2 separate regions of the Homo sapiens genome follow, and region 1 is linked to region 2. A link means that fine-mapping ties the variant in region 2 to the plasma level of a protein whose gene starts in the linked region. Region 2 holds a variant in brackets. A gene starts in the other region. All regions are shown on their forward strands.

Region 1 (10,149 bases), not on the chromosome of region 2:
CTTTATTTTTTCTCATGCTGTAATTAGGTTGCTGAAATCCAACCTACACAACCAATAAACGAATCCTACAAATACTAAGCATTTGTATTAGTTTTGTCTTTGTTTATTTAATTTAGATTTTCTCAAAGAAAGAGAATAAATAACTATTCTAATGCCTATGTCCCAGACGTAGGGTATCATATTTCAAATCAGCCTAATTCACCAATGGTCATAGGATATCTAGTGACCTACAAGTATTTTTTATCCCAATAAATATCTCAATTTATTAATCCATGGTCTGGAGCATTTGGTTCAGGGCTTGATACTTAATGGATATATCTATTTCTATATCTAATTCTAACAATATTCATATGTATATGCATATATATTTACATATAAAATGACTGCTATAATAATAAGGTTTTAAAAAAATCAAGCCACAAGATTATTATTTTTTCAGTTCTGTTTGGTACAATTAGATGTGTGCTAAGATCAATAAAACATAATTAAAATATATTTTTAGCAGCATTTCTACATTCATGATATTTAGGTACTATTATATATAATTTAGGTACTATTATATAATGTATCCTTGTCATATGCCATTTATTGACAGGGATACATTCTAAGAAATGCATTGTTAGGCGATCTAATCATTGTGCACACATTATAAGTGTACTCACGCAAACTTAGATGCCATAGCCTACCACACCTTTAGGCTATATGGTATAGGCTGTTGCATCTAGGCTACAAATCTGTATAACATGTTCCTGAATACTGTAGGCAATTGTTAGAAAATGGTAACTGTATGTGTATGTAAACAGAGAAAAGGTACAGTGAAAATACTATATTATAATTGTATAAGACCACCATTATTGATTGAAGCATCATTATGTATTGTATGACTGTATCATAAATCACAGTAAATAAATAAGTAAAATATAACAATGACTTAAAGTTTCCTGTTACCTGACACTAATAACATTTCAGACATAATCAAAGTTTTAGAGGCACTCTACTGCTTCAGTTCTTTTTTCTTTCTGATAACCGCTAATCCTTTTCTCTTTAATAAATGCAGGAGAGCATCTGGAGAAAAACAAAGTGCTAGTATGATTTTTTTTATTTTCTGTTTTGAAAACATCCTCTGGGAAGAAAAAGTGAATAAGGTGCAAAGCTGATTGGGCGGTTCGTTCTAAGCTGCAATTTAATAAATTAATTGCATCATCCCTGGTTGTACCCATTCTCCCTCTTGCCTAGCTCAGTCAATGTTCTTCTAAGTCTAATGCAAAAGCCATCTATTTTTTCCTTGATTTTATTTGAATATTAGTTTGTCTTTAGAAACCAAACACCAAATTGAAATAAATTTTGGTCTCTGATAGTTTTCAAACTTGTTCTACAAACAGTTTATATTATTGCAAAGCAAGTACTATAGTTGCTACAAAACTGTATTTGTGTTTTGTGTAATTATGAAATGTGATGTTTCATTGTTTATGTTAAACAGTTGCTATAACATCTAAATGGTTGTAATATCTTCCCATGTCACTTAACTTGATTTAATACAAAATTTATTATATGTTGATATTTATATTTTATGCTGAGTAGGTCTTGTTATATAATAATATGGTATGAATTAAAATCTTTAATTTTTCGATAATGATATCTGAGTTATCAACTTGCAAATAATGTAATTGGTAACAATCAAAGCAATTCTTGTAAGCATGCATTCATTGCAAAAATGACAATATAATGCTAACTCATATGTATTGTTGCAGAGTGTCATATGACATATTATTTAATGTGTACTTTAATATAAAAATATGCAGATGTTCATATACTGTTAGTGTATTGTAGGCTAATGTTTTTATATTTAATTGCAGTACTTTATTTTTTAAATAAGCATCACTTTGCCCTTTTTATAATCTGGTATTATCTATTCTAACATGCTACTCTGTAGTTTTGCCATTAAAAGACTTTAAAAATTTTGATATGTTTATCATGTAATTGAGCAATCGAAAGAGAAATAAATGAAAATAGAATAAAAATATTGAGTCTATATCTCAAAATTTTTATTAATGATTAGGATATTCAACAAAACATTATCGTTTTTCTTTTTTTTAATTTTATTATTATTATACTTTAAGTTTTAGGGTACATGTGCACAACGTGCAGGTTTGATCGTTTTTCTTTTAATAAATTCTGGTGCAATTGGATACTGTCTCACATGATTCTGAGAGAACATAGTAGCATAAACATTATCATAAAAATGGGGCACATTTTCACAAATACAGCTGTGTATCTGAATTTAGATCAATTTGCTTATCAAAATAGTATTTAATATTGGAAATAAAGACAGGAGTTTTTGTTTGGAATTCAGACCATTCTAGTTTTTGAGGAATTGAGTTTTTGAGGAATTTGAGTTTTTGAGGAACTGAGTTTTTGTTTGGAATTAAGAAAATTTACTGGCAATTTTTGAAAATGCTAAACTGTTATAACAATAACTTTCAAATAAAAAAGGTGACAAATCTTTTTTTGTATTTTTAATTCAATTTTGAAAGTACTATTAATATTCCCTAGCTGATTTTAACAAAAAATACTAAATGTTATACTATAAGATGTGAGTGTGATAAAATAATTTGTATAAAGAGCTATTTTTTGGGATACTTGAATATCAACCAGATTTTCAAAATAAGGGACAAGCCAAGAATTTTTAAAAGATGTTCAAGCAAATATTCAAAATATTTTCCCTGTGTATAATTTCCCTATCTTTTAAAAAGTTACAATTAAATAAATATTTATTTCTACTTGGAAATAAACCCTCTTAAAATGGTAGAGAAAGAGCCATCTAGATAATATTAATATGATCTAGAACAAGCTCTCTTAAATGTATTTGAAGAAATTGGAACAACGACGTCTTTATATCAAACTTAAAAAGCTTGTTTTGTTGCAGACTAAGTGAAGTGGGGAATTGAGGAAGTCTGATTATAAATAGACTACATCACTGTCTTTCAGGGATTCTTCAGCTATGCTTTAGGCATGTATACATATAGAAGACACTACATTAGATATAAGAAACTTAAGATGTTTTATCTGTCCTCAATTAGGAAGAACATTTGCAAACTTCATTGTGTGAATAATTTGAACATTTATTAGAGAGATTTCTTGAGTCTTCTCTGAAAATTAAATCTCCTCTTAGGTTGCTATCTATTCAATTACAATTCTCTTAACATCTGGGACCGTCTAATTTTGGTAAGAATGAGCAGATGCTGGCAAGAAACCATCGAAATGAAGATAATATTCAATGTAAATATATATTATACTTATCAAGAAATGACTCGAAGAAGGAACCAAATTTATAGATAAGATGTGACTTGTTTAGCTATTAGTAGCTTATGTTTTATAAAAATGAAATATGGAATACATCCCAAACATATTTTTACAATTAAAAAACTAGGACAATACAAACAAACAACAACAACAAAAAATTAGGAGAACAAAACAGAACTTTGATAACCCAATTAGAAATTTATTTGGCATCCAAAAGACTACTTTATTTTATATCCAGAGAAAATTCTGAAGATTTTTATTCAAATGTTAAAGTCACACTTTAAAAGCTCACGCTTATCCTTAAACAAAGTAACTACTTATATAAGTAAACTGTCATTGTATTTATTGTAACTATGAGATAGTTTATATTAAGGAAGGCATTACACAGACTAGTGACAGGAGCTCCTAATTGAGTTTATTATCATGAAATATATTCATAAAAATGTAGAAGACATACTCATAAAATAAAAATATATAATAAATAGAAATCATAAACAATGAAATCACATTTCAGTTTACTTTTAGTCATTCATAGATTTTATAATCCTTAATATTTAATTCCCTGGTTAAAGTGGAACTGATGTTATCAAAATAATAGTTTTACAAGATTATAGGATGAGCAGAAAGTACATTTGCTTACTATTTCTATAATAGTAAAATAATAGCAAATGTAAAATATTTTGCTACAATTTAAACAAACATATAAAAAGTGAACACAAAGGGCAAAGGGGACACGCTCATAAATCACTGTAAATCAAATTAGAAAACAGGTTTTGTTTTTATTTACATAAAATAAACAGACCTCTCATTTGCCAGTTGTTACTGTTAAAGTTTTAGGTGACAAAATGTTGATTGAGAAAAGTATTTTGTTCAGGAAAAAGTAAGTTAACTACTAACTTTATCCCATTTAAAAAGAAAAAAAAAGGAAGACTAATCAAAGATTACTTTTACAGAGAGATTCAATAAACAATGCATTTAAGGGTAAGCCAGTATGAAATGTTTTTTCTTAGGAAACTCACTAAGAATATATATCACAGTGATTCCACACGTGCTATGGTCCTTTATACAGAGTTGAATAAATTCATTATTTTCTCAGCAGTTAAATAAACAAAGTCTGCGTTCCCTGAATAATAGGAAGATTTGATGCATGTGCCTGCTGGCTCACTTCCTCTGTCCCATTTGCAAGCTTCAGTAACTGTTCCCCACAGAGCACCAAAGGGACACAACAAACACATGAAGAGATCACTCTCATCCCACAGAATGAGCTTTACAGTAACTTGGATCTCTACACGAAGGTGTAAATTCAGAGCAACTTACCCGATTCTCTGCAACAAAGATGGCAAAGTTTGCAAGGAGTGAAAATCATGTAATACTTCGGGGAAATGCAGGATGCAGCTGCTGCTCCAGCCTGTAAATTGGACTGCACTGACATTCAGTGTTACTGAATGTAACAATCAACTGTTACTGACAAAGCTCGCGAGAGTTGGCAGCAGCAACTTGAAATCTGTTCAGAGGCTAATGGTATAAATGCAATAGTGATTCATTTACAGAAGTATTACAGGATTCATGCTTTACAATTGCAGGTAGTCTTCTAAGAATGAAGAAAAAAAGCATAGAAGATTCTTTAACTAAAATAATCTGAAATGTAACAGAAAATGCATGTTTCTTTTAACTCTAAACTTTAAAAAAATTTTCCTTTTTTTAAGAATATACATATTTCCTATGCTTGTCTTAAGATTTAAAGACGTATACATCATTCTAAAGTAGTGCTATTATTGAAATCCATTATAGCTTCAATCTGTGCTAATTATATAGTTAGAGAAGATAGTAATATAGAAAATAAGAAACACAATGCTCTAGATATAAGCTATGCAAATCAAAAACTTAGTTCTATTAACTGAATGGATGTCTCTGATATGTATCTCCTTTCAACCCCCACACTTCAACACTTATTTAAGTCATACAAATTTCAGCATTGGTAATTTCCTATTCAGAAGACCCTGCAGGCAGTCATACATGATGAGAAGCCACAATTTTCTGGTCAAGACAGGAAAAATAAAATGAATAACCTTCACCAAACTCTATAAAAGAGACACATTTGTCAACTTGCAGTGCACATGCTCTGGAGAATATATTTATGTCTTTGGCGCTTATCTTTCTTGAAATGATGTTCAGGAAAATAATTTTTTAAAAAACCTTTGATAAACTCCTTAATCCCTATCTTCTCAATGCAATATATTCTTAATCTTCTGTAAGTGATAGCTTTCACTTTTGAATCTCTTACTTGTGGGCTTTCTATGGACTAAACAGAAGGCATGTATTAATATTTGCAGGTGAGCACTTTTTTGCCTTTTAATAGAGTGTTAAATTTTCAAACAAGCAAATATAATTAGCATTTGTTGTAATTCTACCTTATGCCAGTCATTATAATTGACAATTTATATTAAATATTTTATATTATTTCAGCAAATATGAGAGTTAATATTATTAACCACCTCATCAGATGAGAAAGCTAAGGTTTCTACAAATCAGAAGCTTACTATATTTCTTACCACTAGTAGCTGTTGGAAAACAGAATTTTAATCTGTATTATTCTGTTATTTTATGTCAACTGCTTCCAAGAGAATAACCATTTTGGTCTTTTAAAATTATCTTTTCTGTGAAAATTGCTACTTAGGCAGTGTTAATTCAATGATAAATATCATGATCACAATAATTTATAATGTATTTAGAATATAGTTTATGTAATAACAAGTTAGTTACACAAAAGGTACAGAATACATAATCTATCTGAAAAGGAGAAAAAGGAGGTGGAGCACAGTGGTTCATGACTGTAATCCCAACATTTTAGGAGGCCTAAGTGGGCGGATTGCTTCAGTCTGGGAGTTCAAGACAAGTCTGGACAACATAGCAAAACTCAATTTCTGCAAGAAAATGGGTCAGACATGGTGGTGCAAGCCTACATTCCCAGTTACTTGGGAGGTAGCTGAGGTAAGAGTATCACCTGAGCCTAGGAGGTCGAGGCTGCAAGCCACGATTGTGCCACTGCACTTCATCGTGGGTGACAGAGTGAGATCCTGTCTCAAAAAAAAATTAATCAATAAATCAATAAAAGCAGGAAAAGGCTTTTTAAATGGAAGTATATTGACAAATTTGCAATGGTTTTTATAGTGATGGCATTTCTGTTTAAAATATAGTAAATCTGATGTTCCACATGAGAGTTCATGGGTTCAATATACATGATTTTTAAAAATCCAAATGTCAAAATTCTTCTCTCCAACCCAAGTCCACTGCATTGTTTCCTGTGCTAGCATAAGGTCAGCCTATCAAACGCGGCAATTATTAAGGAATATTTTGTGACGTTAGTGAATTCAGCAAAGCATTTTACATGCTTCCTGCATCTACTCACTGCTAGGTAAAATATGTCACATATATACACATATTTCATTTTCATCTTTAAACAGGAAGCCAAACAATAAAATAATTGGTTTCAAGCAGATCTTTATCTTTAACGCATGTTTAAACTGGCTAACTAGCAACATCAACTGATTACACAAGTTGGCAATTTTTCTTCTTCTCAATGTCTTTACTTCAAAGAACCACCTTCTGTTACTGTCCCTGTAGTTCTTTTCCTCGCATGATTTCACAGCTATGCCACATTAGTTCATTCATTATTTTAGTGCACCTCTAAAGCATTTATTCTTCCTGTCTTGAGAGTTTCTTCCTTGTGGCTCAACTTACAGCAGCTGCTTTGCTTCTGTGGTGTCATCATTTTCTCACACTCATCCAGCGGAAGGATGTAGGTCACACACAGTGAGCTTGTTTCAGGGTTAGTAGGGAAGCACTATTCCATTACATCACAGCATGGATGGTTAATGATCCTGCTGTTAAATGTTGAGTATGCCTTGTAAGCGACACTGATGAAATACCACAAGACACTTGACACGGCATTAACACTGCGCACATTTTGCAACCATATATGCTGAAGCTTGGGCAGGACAATCATTATGGTTTTGGCTCTATGATCACTTTCAGTTAGCCAGTCACAGTGGTTTTTTGCTTTTAAGGTCCCATTGTAACTCAGTTACCACTGTTTTCTAGATAGCAGCATTCAGTAAGATTTGAGATGGTGTGAAAAACATTAATCCTGTATTATACATTAGTTTTCCTTAGGCATACTGATGCCAAAAAAGTGCTCTAAACTTATATTAATTTTATTCATTTTTTTTACAATAGCACTGCATTCTCTGAAATGAATATGGATAACAAAGAAAAGTATATATAAGTATAGATAGATAGATAGATAGATAGATAGATAGATAGATAGATAGATAGATAGATTTTTTTTTTTTTTTCCTGAGATGGAGTCTCACTCTGTCGCCCAGGCTGGAGTGCAGTGGCAGGATCTCGGCTCACTGCAACCTCTGCCTCCTGGGTTCAAGCAATTTTCCTGCCTCAGCCTCCTGAGTAGCTGGGATTACAGGCACCCACCACCAAATCTGGCTAATTTTTGTATTTTTAGTAGACACAGGATTTCACTATGTTGGCCAGGCTGGTCTCGAATTCCTGACCTCAGGTGCTCCACCAACCTCGGCCTCCCAAAGTGCTGGGATTATAGGTGTGAGCTACTGCATCCAGCCCAGAAAAGTATATTTCTACATTTTACATATCACAGAGAATGAAAAGACCATTTTGTATATTCCAATCAATTTTTTAAAATATGTGTATGTGGTTATAGTTACATAGATAAATATAGTGGTAGTCAAATGGCTTATCATCATTCTTCTTGCTTTTTATCTTATGATATTAATTTCCTATTAAAATATTTTGATTACTGTGTGATATATTATCATATGGGCATATTATGGTTCATTGTATCTCTTGTTACTTATATGATGATAATAATAATTTTAGGTAATAAATATTATTTGAAAGCACTATTCTATCCACTTTGAATACATGAATTCATTTAAAACTCATGACTACCTTTAAAATAAGCACTATTATTAACCTTATTTTACATTTGAGAAAATATAGCCACAAAGAGTTTAAGTAACTTGCTCCAAATCATACAGATACCGAGGTTAGCTTCTGACTTTTTTTATGTATTATTACAATAGGCATTTTGTATATCGATATTTGAGTGCATCTTTTAATTATTTTCTTAATTTATTTTCCCAGAATTGGAATAACCAAATACGACATGGACAAAGTACATATACATATATGTGTGTGTGTATATATACATGTGTGTATGTATATATATTTATATGTATATTCAATCTTCTGAAATCCTACACAGACTGTTGAATAGAGATAACTTTCCAACAATTCTGGCAAAAAAGAGAAATGTTCTTATAATCAGAACTAACCTGAACATGTCTCTGGAGCCCAGGTACTAGACCCTCATAGCTGGATGTGGCAGGTGTTTGAAGGTGGATATCTCCAGAGATATTAGAAGTAGGTCCAGAGCCACAGGTAATAAAATTCTTTAGTGATGTTGTAGCAACTAATATGGAAGGCCTTGCAGGAAGTGACATCTGTAAGGGATAACACATAGATATTTTGGGGTTAAGGGAGAGTGAGTGATGGGAGGTCTGTGGTGCCTTTTACATGAAGATACAGATAGTTTGGTTAAAGGAGTTTTGGAAAGAGACAACAACAATTTGGTGAGACACTAGAATATTAGACTCTAAGAACAGAAAGAAAATCAAGAAAAAGCAAGAGCTTCTAAGGAAATGTGGTGCCAAGTGGATTTTCATGGAATTGGCAAAGCCAGCAGAATCAAAGTAAGAAAACAAATTCTGAACTAAATTGTTCAGGGCTTGAGCAAAAAAGGAGAAACTCATTGTTTTAAAACATAAAAAAAGAGAGAAAAACAGCAAGCTTCTTTGTTTATCACCTAATTTACTGAATTGGCTTAAATTTACTCTTCCCAAACCCTTGACTATCTTTGGAGTCTCACTCTCAGAAAAATTGCAAAGTAACACATTATCAAATTCATCAAAGTGCTATTTAAACATCCAGATTTCTAGGCCACATCCCTGGGCTTTGGTTTCAGTAGACTTGAGGACAGCGTTATACTACTGTCCTCTGTGAAGCTGATAGAGGGAGTTCACAAACTACACACTAAGAGGCAAAGTCCTGGAGCTTGGATACTAAGGACATTTTTGTGCTACCATATATATATATATGCTTTTTCTTTTTTTTAATTGCTTATTCTCATGCACAACTGTACCTTTTGCTTCAAGCTAATTTGGAAATACATCATACATAGTCTTTGGTAGCCTACTTTCATATAACCTATCTTAAGTTTTTCCAAAATAATGCTATCGAATATTTTTTTAACTTCATTTATATGCCTATGTATTAATTATTTGTATAAGTACAATATAATTTATCTAACTTGCTTTTATTGTATATGAAGGCTATTTTAAATTTTTCCTGGAAATAGTAACATAAAAATGGACTTAGTAATTATAAATATTTTTAAATATTTCTTATTTTCTATGGAATAATTGCTTAAATCAGAATTCTTCAAAAGGTTATCTATGCTTTTATGGCTAAGACATATCAACCAACTACCTTCACAAAACATCAGCAATTTATACTCTCACCAGCTGTCTAGGAAAGTGTATGTTGTTCTCATGCTCAAAAACGCAATTTATTATTACATATCTTTTGTCATTTCATTTGATAAAAATGTACTATTTTTAGTTTATTTGCTTATAACTGTTACCACCCATATTTCAGGTGTTTAAAAGTAACTTTTTATTTCTGTACAATTTTAAATTTATGGAAATTTTCAAATTAGTGCAGACAACTTCTATATAATATTTACTCAGA
Region 2 (10,149 bases):
TTTCTTGGCAGGAATTGTATCTTACACCTATTTTCATTCTCCACTATATAGCATAGATAGCTAAGAAATAATTGCATATAATCCAAACAGTATATTTAGTGGCAAGTTCTGGATGTGTGACAGCCAACTTTTTTTTTTTTTTTGAGATGGAGTCTCGCTCTCTCACCCAGGCTGGAGTGCAGTGGCGCAATCTTGGCTCACTGCAGCCTCTGCCTCCCAGGTTCAAGCGATTCTCTTGCCTCAGCCTCCCAAGTAGCTGGGATTACAGGCACGTACCACCACACCTGGCTAATTTTTGTATTTTGGTAGATGGGGTTTCACCATGTTGGCCAGGCTGGTCTTGAACTCTTGACCTCAAGTGATCCGCCCGCCTTGGCCTCCCACAGTGCTGGGATTACAGGCATGAGCCACCGCACTGGGCCTGACTGGTCTTTTTGACATTATGGTCATCGTATTCTTTTTACAAAGTAACTTTGAATTTGTTAACATTAAAGTTGGATTTTTTTTTTTTTTTACCATTGAAAGTAAAAAATTCTATACTACCAAAAAAATAGCTATTGTCTTGTTTTTCCCCAAGAAACTTAATATGACTATTGATAAATACAATAAAACAGATTACTGAAGGAATGTTTCTGCAAAATGGTGCTATGTCATGAGACAGGGACTCTATAGTTAAATAAATTTGGGGGACTGTTGGATTCTATTTTTTTTTTTTTTAAAGACAGGGTATCACTCCCATTACCTAGGTGGCCGTGCAGTGGTGCAATCATGGCTCATTGTAGCCTCATCCTCCTGGGCTCAAGCAATACTCCCACCCCATTTTTTGATTTTTTGTAGAGACAAGGTCTCACTATGTTGCCTAGGCTGGTGTTGAACTCCTGGGCTCAAGTGATCCACCCACTTAGGCCTTGCAAAGTGCTAAGATTACAGGCGTGAGCCACTGCATACGGCCTGTTGCTTTTTTTTTTTTTTTTTTTTGAGACGGAGTCTCGCTCTGTTGCCAGGCTGGAGTGCAGTGGCGCAATCTTGGCTCACTGCAACCTCCGCTTCCTGGGTTCAAGCGATTCTCCTGCCTCAGCCTCCTGAGTAGCTGGGATTACAGGCATGCGCCACCACACCTGGCTAATTTTTGTATTTTTAGTACAGACGAGGTTTCACCATGATGGTCAGGCTAGTCTCGAACTCCTGACCTCAAGTGATCTGCCCGCCTTGGCCTCCCAAAGTGCTGGGATTACAGGTGTGAGCCACCGTGCCCGGCCCAGTTGCATTCTTTATATCCCTCTTGGAGGTTAGTGATACATTTTTAAAATTCTGCTATAAAGGAACCAGTTTACTTTTGTTTTGTCCTACTGTTTCACCAGCTATTTGAGCATAGAACATATTTTGTTATTATAACTTAGTTGTTAACAAATGCTAGTTTGGGAAAAGCTGCTCCAGAGGATTTTTAAAATAGTCAACAGTTTTTTTTGTACTCAATTGTAGGAGGTATTTAATCATTCATTTGCTTAAAACTTATTGAATGTCTTCTTAGTCCAAGAATTATGCTATACCCTTACAATACAAAGATAAATAAATAAAAGTCTCTGTCTGTAAGAAGCTTACAATCTAAAGCAAAATAAATTTTTTAAAAAATAAGTTCAACATAACTTTATGAGCATTTATTTTTCTTTTTAGCTACCATTTATGGGGTGTTAACAATATGTTAAGCACTATGCTAAGTATTTCACGTGTATTGTTTCACTTAATCTTCACAAAAGCCCTGAGAGGTATATGGTATTATTGGTTATCTTTTCTAAGCTTTAGTTTTCTGAAGCTCAGTAAGATAAGTAACTTGCTTAGACTCATAATTCCATTGAATCCTGGAGTTAGAACCCAGCCTGTTTAATTTATATCCTTAACTAATATACAATATTTCTTTGTTGGAATAATGTACGGAATAATGTACAAATTAATAGTGAGGGTACAAATGAGGAGTGGTTTGTTGTTCCAGGAAGCTAGAAAATCATAAAGAAGATGGTATCATTTGTGTTTTAAAAGACAAGGTTGAGCAGGGATGCATGGTAAATATCACCTAAAAAGGCATAGACTGTAAAACTGGGTTCTACATGTGTTTGGGTATAGGACACTGAGCAAGAGGAGATGAGACTAGAGAGCAAGGTCACATTAGAGCAAACCTCCTATGTCAGAGTAGATAATAGGCAATGGATAGAATTTTTAGCAGAAGAGTAATATTATCGGATTCGCATTTTAGAAATGGTCTTAAGCTGCAGTGTGAAAGTTGGATTGGAGGAATGGATTCTAGAGAGTGTCATACCATTAGGAGATTATTCTGTTAAAACAGGTCATAGATACACAGTTTTTAGTTACAGACTAAAGTAGTAACTAGAGAAAGACGTGTCTGTCTCGGAGACGGATAACGTTTAAGTATTTGTTTGATTAAAGCAATTTTTCTCAATTGTTTAAGAGGAAAGCAGTAACTACATCATGTGCGCTAAAATTTGTAGGTTTACTTTCTTTTGGAATGGGGATTAGATTAGATTCAAGGATGCTGCATTACCTGAAAATTCGGATTGAATATGAAGTTAACATGCCTTTACGAATGGAGGTTAGCAAATAACACTGTTTCTAAAGTTACAGACTAAGCTCTTACTCTGAATGCAGCCAGAATTGTCTGGCAACAACATGAGGGAAAATAGTATCTTATGCCTGTAATTGTATTTTTATATTATGATTTTTTTTTTGTTCTATGGTTTATCTCTCATTTTAATCACACGTTTTATGTGTATCTTGAAATTGTGCCTAGGGAAGTGCTAATGGAAATAAAACATTGAATTTTTTTAAAGCAAAAAATCTGTTTTCATGTATTTGTTTAAAAGAGAAAAATTTAAAAACTATGACTGGCGAGGCCGGGTGCAGTGGCTCATGCCTGTAATCCCAGCACTTTGGGAGGCCGAGGTGGGTGGATCCCTTGAGGTCAGGAGTTCGAGACCAGCCTGGCCAACATGGTGAAACCCCATCTCTACTAAAAATACAAATTAAGCCAGATGTGGTGGCGCACCACTGTAATCTCAGCTACTTGGGAGGCTGAGGCAGGAGAATTGCTCGAATCTGGGAGGCAGAGGTTGCAGTGAGCCAAGATCACACCACTGCACTCTAGCCTGGGTGACAAGAGTGAGACTCTGTCTCCAAAAAAAAAAAAAAAACATCACTGTGGCTGGCGAACAAGTTCTGCCTATAGCTCATCTGTCAGATGACAAGTAGCAGTGACCTACTTTTCTAAGTGGGTGCTTTAGAATCTAATTCCTGATTCTTTCTTTTTTATTTTTATTTATTTTTTGAGACAGAGTCTCACTCTGTCACTGAGGCTGGAGTGCATTGGCACCGTGTCGGCTCACTGCAACCTCCGTCTCCTGGGTTCAAGCAATTCTCCTCCCTCAGCCTCCCGAGTAGCTGGGATTACAGGTGCCCACCACCACACCCGGCTAGTTTTTATATTTTTAGTAGAGATGGGGTTTTACCATGTTGGCCAGGCTGGTTTCGAACTCCTAACCTCAGGTGATCCACCTGCCTCGGCCTCCCAAAGTGCTGGGATTACAGGCATGAGCCACCACGCCCGGCCCTGATTCTTTCTTTTAAAACAGAACAGCAATACTAAAATTCATATTATGGGCATCTTATCTTTGACTATCCTATATTCCTTTTTGTATTATGGTGAAATGTTCTATATGTGGTTAAATTTATGTTTTGTTCTAATTGGTTGTTTGCCATATTTTTCTTTTATTCTTAGGCCTGCAAAAATTCAATCTGTCTTGATTTATCTACTAATTGTTTGCATGGAAGATTAACAGGAAACAAAGTAGTGAACTGGGACATTAAGGTAAATTAATAGTAAATGTTGGGCAACATCTTACATAATTTACTGATACTCTTATTAAGGATTTTGTTTTTAAAGCACTGCCAGATTGATCTAAATAATAGGTCTCAGTTAAAGGGTTATGCAAACATACAATTTGAAGGGTAAACAAATGCAAAGTTAAATGACTAACATAGTTGAATGACTTTGGTTTGAAGTATAGTTACCTTTGTAAGCTACAGCAGGTCTTTGGATAATGTCGTTCATTATAAAGTCAGTGAGAAAAAAATTGATTCCTGGCAGGGGCAACTGTCTGTGTGGAGTTTGAATGTTTTTGCCATGTCTGTATGGGTTCTCAAATCTTATTTTCCTTTTTCATTGGCCTCATATTTATGTCACAGCTGGAACTTTGCTTCCATCTAGAGGCTTCTACTTACTTTCCAAGACCAAACTGCTCTTATGGGTATCCCTAGCACTTTATTATTTCACTTACCATGGCAAATAGTAACTG[C/T]TTGGTTAATGCTCTAGTAGTCCAAAAGAACTTTGAAGGAAGGGTCACTGCTTTTTTCTTTTTTTTAATCAGTTCCTGGTACAGGGTTATGCAACAAATAAGTGTTGACTGAGTGATTAAATTAGTAAAGGTTGTTTAGGGTGAGAAAGGCTTAATTCTTAAATATAGTGTTTCCTTAAATGATATTTTAAATAGAAGTTATAACCTAAGTTAAATAAAAGAAATATAAAAGATAATTATAAGAGGGCTTGCCGGTAAATCAGGGAAATAAAAGATAATTATAAGAAGACTTGCTGGTAAATCAGGAAAAAAAAAAAAACTTTTCTAATCAGTTAACACCAACCAAATACGTTTATTATTTCAGTGAAAAGAAATCATTAAGATAATTTTGCCTATGTAGAAATTAATCTATCAATTAGTGTTAATTTCATGTTATTCATGATATATAAAGGATTTTTCTCCTTAATTTTGGTATAAGAACACTTGTTCTTTTTCTTTTCTTTTCTTTTTTCTTTTTTTTTTTTTTGAGGCAGAGTTTTGCTGTCGCCCTGGCTGGAGTGCAGTGGATCTCGGCTCACTACAACCTCTGCCTCCCAGGTTCAAGCGATTCTCCTGCCTCAGCCTTCCAAGTAGCTGGGATTATAGGCACCTGCCACCACACCCAGCTGATTTTTGTATTTTTTAGTAGAGACAGGGTCTCACCATGTTGGACAGACTGGTCTCGGACTCCTGACCTCAGTTGATCCGCCCACCTTGGCCTCTCAAAGTGCTGGGATTACAGGCGTGAGCCACCATGCCCGGCCAGAACACTTTTTTTTATCTGTTACCATAGTAGGATTTATGACATGAATGACACTTCATAAGTTAACTTTTGCTTTACTTGTAAGACTGGTTTTACAAAGCTGATTCCATGTGGTATTTTATATATAGAAATCTGTTTATATGTACCATACATACCTGAAAATCAAAGCCGTTTTTTTGTGGCCTGAGTTACAGCTATGTGGATTATTAACTAGTTAGACTTTTGGCTAATGTGGAAATCAAAAAGCAACAGATTATCAAGAGAAAGGCGTATTTTTATACTGTAGCCAAATCAAAGACCAAAAAAGTTAAATGACAACTGGTAAAATAATATTTGCCTTCCAAAAAGTTAATTTACTTATTTACACAAAGAGCTCTTCAAAACTGGTATGACAAACAGTCAAAACAAAGTAGAAGATATGAGGCCAGGCACAGTGGTTCACACCTGTAATCCCAGTACTTTGGGAGGCCATGGCGGGCAAATTGCTTGAGCTCAAGAGTTTGAGACCAGCCTGGGCAACATGGCAAAACTTTGTACAAAAAATACACACGTTAGCTGAGTGTGGTGGCACATGCCTGTAGTCTCAGCTACTTGGGAGGCTGAGGTGAGAGGATCACTTGAGCCTGGAAGGTCGAGACTGCAGTGAGCCGTGATCAGGCCAGTGCACTCCAGCTGAGTGACAGAGCGAAACCCTGTCTCAAAAACAAACAAGAAAAACCCAACAAAGTAGCAGATATGTAGGATGAACAAGTCCAGAGATCTAATGTAAAACATGAGGACTATAGTTAATAAAATTACATTTTATTAGGGAGTTTTGTTAAATAAGTAGATTTTAGCTGCTCTTGTCACAAAGTAACTATGTGAAATGATAGAAATGTTAATCTGCTTCACTATAGTAACCATTTTATTATCTATGTGTATCCTACAACATTATTTTGTAAACCTCAAATATACACAATAAAATTTATTTCTAAGAAAACAAGCAAAGAATGTGAAGAGGTTGTTTGAAGACTTAAGTTATGTCCACGTGGCAATTCAGAACACTTTAATAATTAATAATAAGAGCAAACCTTGTATGGTATCGACTGTATGTCAGAGACTGCACTTTTTATATATTAGCTTACTTAATCCTTGCAATACTTTATGAAGTGGGTGTTACTATTATCCTCATTTTACAGATGAAGAAACTGAAGCCAGTGATATTAGTAACTTATCAAAAGATATAGAAAATATTTTATTAAGCTACCCAAAATATCCAAAACTTTGAACTTTGCCTGAAATACCCTCTCTACCTTTTTGTTAACTAAAAGTCGAGGAGTCAGTCATATTTCTACCACCAAATGCATTTTTTTTCATTGTTTATTCTCTTGTTTATTATGCCTAATTGCCTAGTGACAGTTGTTTTTCCATTGTTGGAGTTACATTATAAAGTCCACTTATGGGGCTATGTTTCATTTGCCTATGTTCGAAATCCCTAAAATTTGGAAAATGAAGATGGAGTAAAAATGGTCTGGCCTGATCTCTCTTGAGTTTTGATTATGGTGACCCTTGAGGCTGCCCTGTAAAGCATCTTCCTACACAAAAATTCCTTCAGCTTAGGTTATCCTGTACATTGCTCAAAGGTTTATCTAGCAGATTATAACTTCATACATGTGAAGATATTAAATGACAAAATTGTCCTCCTTTTATAAGATTTAAACATTATAATTTTCCCTTTAGGATATCATAAACTGCATAGGTGGGTTAAATGTACTCTTTCCTTTATTGGAACAAATCAGCCACTTTAGTGAAGGACAGATTCCTGAAGAAAAGAATGAAAGCACAGTTCCTGAATCAGTAACACCTGTTGAAGGAGATTGGCTCGTATGGACTTCCACAAAGGCCTCAGGTATTAAGATGAAATTAACACAAAATAGTCATTGAGAAATTTGAGAATTAATTGAGAAATAAATGAAAATGTTTTACTGTCATTAGGAAGAAACTTAACCATTTGTAGCTGTAGCAGTTGTTTCTACTTTTACTAATATCATTCAGAAAGTTTATAATACTTTCATCAAAAAACGACAGATTAATCTCCAGTATCCTTAGTTTATACTCTTAGTGGAAATATGACCACATTGTTAAATTTGTGGTAGAGAAAATATGTGCACATAAATATACAATATTATAGTTGCTGCTTTTTCTGATTCTATTGTACAATAGAGCGTTGGAAGCTGACTGCTGAACCAGATTTCTACTTTGTGTAACAGTGTGCATTAAGATATAGAAAATGTGATATAAAAGTGATTAGAGAAATTATGATAATTAATATGTTCCTGATTCTACAGAGTCAAGACTAGAGAGAAACCTAGTTGCAACATTTATCTTAATTGTGAAACATTTTATTCAGAGACATCCTATCAACCAGGGCAATCTTATTCACTCCCATGGAGTTGCAACTCTTGGTGCTTTACTTCAGAAGGTGAGCCAGTCTAACATTGTGTTGATGTAGCTAATAATTGTGATTTGCAGTTGATGTTGGGATTTTTTCTTCCTAATAAATATATTTTTAAAGATTATTACAACTTGAATTATATTAATGGATATAATTTGTTCACAGGCAGCTTTTAAAAACTTGTATGGAATCATCTTATACAAGAAATACTTATTTTATGTAATAGTGTATAATCTTTGATGTATACAACCTTGTTTGATAGCTTTGATATTTGGGATGTTGAGAAATATAAGACTATTTTAGGAATATGACACTAGGAGAATATATTCTGGTCTAATATCAGAAAAACCAATACTTAAGTTTTTATTTTTCTAATGTGGGTTTTTCTATTTTTATACTTAGTAGATGTTCTGATTAATGATTTAAAATTATAACTTAATGACAGTTATTTAAACTGAACTATATGAAACCCTCTTCTGTTTGGTTTCAGGTGCCAAGCACCTTGATGGATGTTAATGTGTTGATGGCAGTTCAGTTACTAATTGAACAAGTATCATTAGAGAAAAATATGCAGCTCCTGCAACAAATGTATCAATATTTACTCTTTGACTTTCGTATTTGGAACCGTGGAGATTTTCCCTTTCGAATCGGTGAGAGCAGGCTTTCAGATAAACATTTTATAGTTGTTTTAGAAATTTATAACTACCTATTGACTTTATTTTAGCTGAATTACTTACCATTGAACTTTTTATTTTAGGTCACATACAGTATCTTTCAACCATCATTAAAGACAGCAGGAGAGTTTTCCGAAAGAAGTATGGTGTGCAGTTTCTCCTAGATACACTTAGGATTTATTATGGGTATGATGCCCTTGTTCTTTCTCAGTTTGATATATTATTTTCTGTCTGCTACTTGATTGGAATGTGTAGACTGTAGACTTTCTCTTTACCAGCGATTCTAGTATGTTTTAACTGGAGAGAGGTAGGATACAGTGGAGGTTAAAATGATGAACAGTGGATCGCATACACTGAGTTTGAATCTGGCTTTCATTAATTGTGCAACTGTAGGCAAATTACTCAACTTCTCTGTGCTTGGGTTTCTTCATTTTTGAAAGGAGATAAGAAAACTGTTACCTCCTTTGGTTGTTTTGAGGATTAAGTTAATTAGTTAATAATGTAAAACACTTAAAGTATGTCTGCTATGCAGTGGGTGTTGTATTCACATAAGCTATTTTATTCACTGAAACTCTTAACTCAGAAGATTTTCCTTAAAAAGAAAAGCAAGCCAAAGTTACTATGAATCTCAGAATTACATGGAAATATTTTTTTAACACTATGAATTCTTTTATGTAGAAAATATAGAAATGTAAAAATTAGGCTGGGCGCGGTGGCTCACGCCTGTAATCCCAGCACTTCGGGAGGCTGAGGTGGGCAGATCGTGAGGTCAGGAGTTTGAGACCAGCCTGGCCAACATGGTGAAACCCCATCTCTACTAAAAATACAAAAATTAGCTGGGCGTGGTGGCGTGTGCCTGTAATCCCAGCTACTCAGGAGGCTGAGGCAGGAGAATCGCTTGAACCCAGAAGGCAGAGGTTGCAGTGAGCCAAGATTGTACCACTGCACTCCAGCCTGGGCAACAGAGCGAGACTCCATCTCAGAAAAAAGGAAATGTAAAAATTAAAATTTCAATTCTTATACTTTGTTTTGTCTTTCAGGAATGGTTGTAAATATAATGAACTATCTCTAGATGATATTCGAACAATAAGGACTTCTTTGTATGGACTAATTAAATATTTTCTGTGCAAAGGTGGATCTCATGAAGAGATACAAAGTATTATGGGGTACATAGCTGCTACTAATGAAGAAGAACAGGTATTATGCCTAAGATACATCTACTTTTCCTTTTTAACATTTGAGTTGCTACATCATCTTCTGAACGTATGTTTGTGTCTAGTTAAATATTTTGAGAGTAAAATATGTGTAGTGTCACATTCAATATTATGCACTTAAGAAGTAAATTTTATCTTTTTTTTTTTTGAGATGGAGTCTCGCTCTGTCACCCAGGCTGGAGTGCAGTGGCACGATCTCGACTCACTGCAACCTCCATCTCCCAGAAGGAGAAGTGGTTCTCCTGCCTCAGCCCCCTGAGTAGCTGACATTACAGGTGTGCACCCCCACACTGAGCTAATTTTTTGCCTTTTTTTTTTTTTTTTTTTTTTTCCGGTAAAGACAGGGTTTCACCATGTTGGTCAGGCTGGTCTTGAACTCCTAACCTCAAATGGTCTACCCGCCTAGGGCTCCCAAAGTGCTAGGATTACAGGCGTGAGCCACCACGCCAGGCCAGAAGTAAATTTTATCTACTAACTAAATTTTTCATAAAATAGATGACAGTGTAATTTAATATTCCAATTAGCTAGAAAATTTAATATATGGAAATGTTTCCTTTGGCAATTCTGAAGCCTGTTTTCATAGTCTGCGTGGTGTATGTTTACTTAGCATCGAAGTTATCATCAAAGTTAGTGGGTAGATTTCTTTCTTTTTTTTTTTTTT

Alleles and levels. Positions count from the first base shown, and alleles are read on the strand shown. Strength reflects both the effect of a copy and how common the allele is.
With allele T in place of C in region 2, the plasma level of the protein whose gene starts at base 4,730 in region 1 is higher (moderate association).

Evidence for each region. PIP is the posterior inclusion probability: the model's chance that the variant is causal. Protein levels are from antibody-based Olink assays in UK Biobank. Linkage for the fine-mapping came from a reference panel and not from the study's own genotypes, which makes the PIPs less certain.
Region 1: it holds the start of BCHE, and the variant in region 2 is fine-mapped to the plasma level of the BCHE protein (UK Biobank, PIP above 0.99).

Annotation. Positions count from the first base shown.
Region 1 is chr3:165,832,694-165,842,842 of GRCh38, forward strand. BCHE (butyrylcholinesterase) reads right to left here and starts at 4,730. Exons shown (of 4, transcript NM_000055.4): 1 at 4,621-4,730. RefSeq lists an enhancer at 4,548-4,842.
Region 2 is chr2:203,118,467-203,128,615 of GRCh38, forward strand. It overlaps NBEAL1 (neurobeachin like 1), which reads left to right. Exons shown (of 56, transcript NM_001378026.1): 19 at 3,788-3,877; 20 at 6,886-7,054; 21 at 7,494-7,627; 22 at 8,091-8,250; 23 at 8,358-8,460; 24 at 9,315-9,471. Among named protein-coding and RNA genes, the nearest start is that of NBEAL1, 110 kb to the left of the region's middle. The variant C/T (reference allele first, on the strand shown) is at 4,365.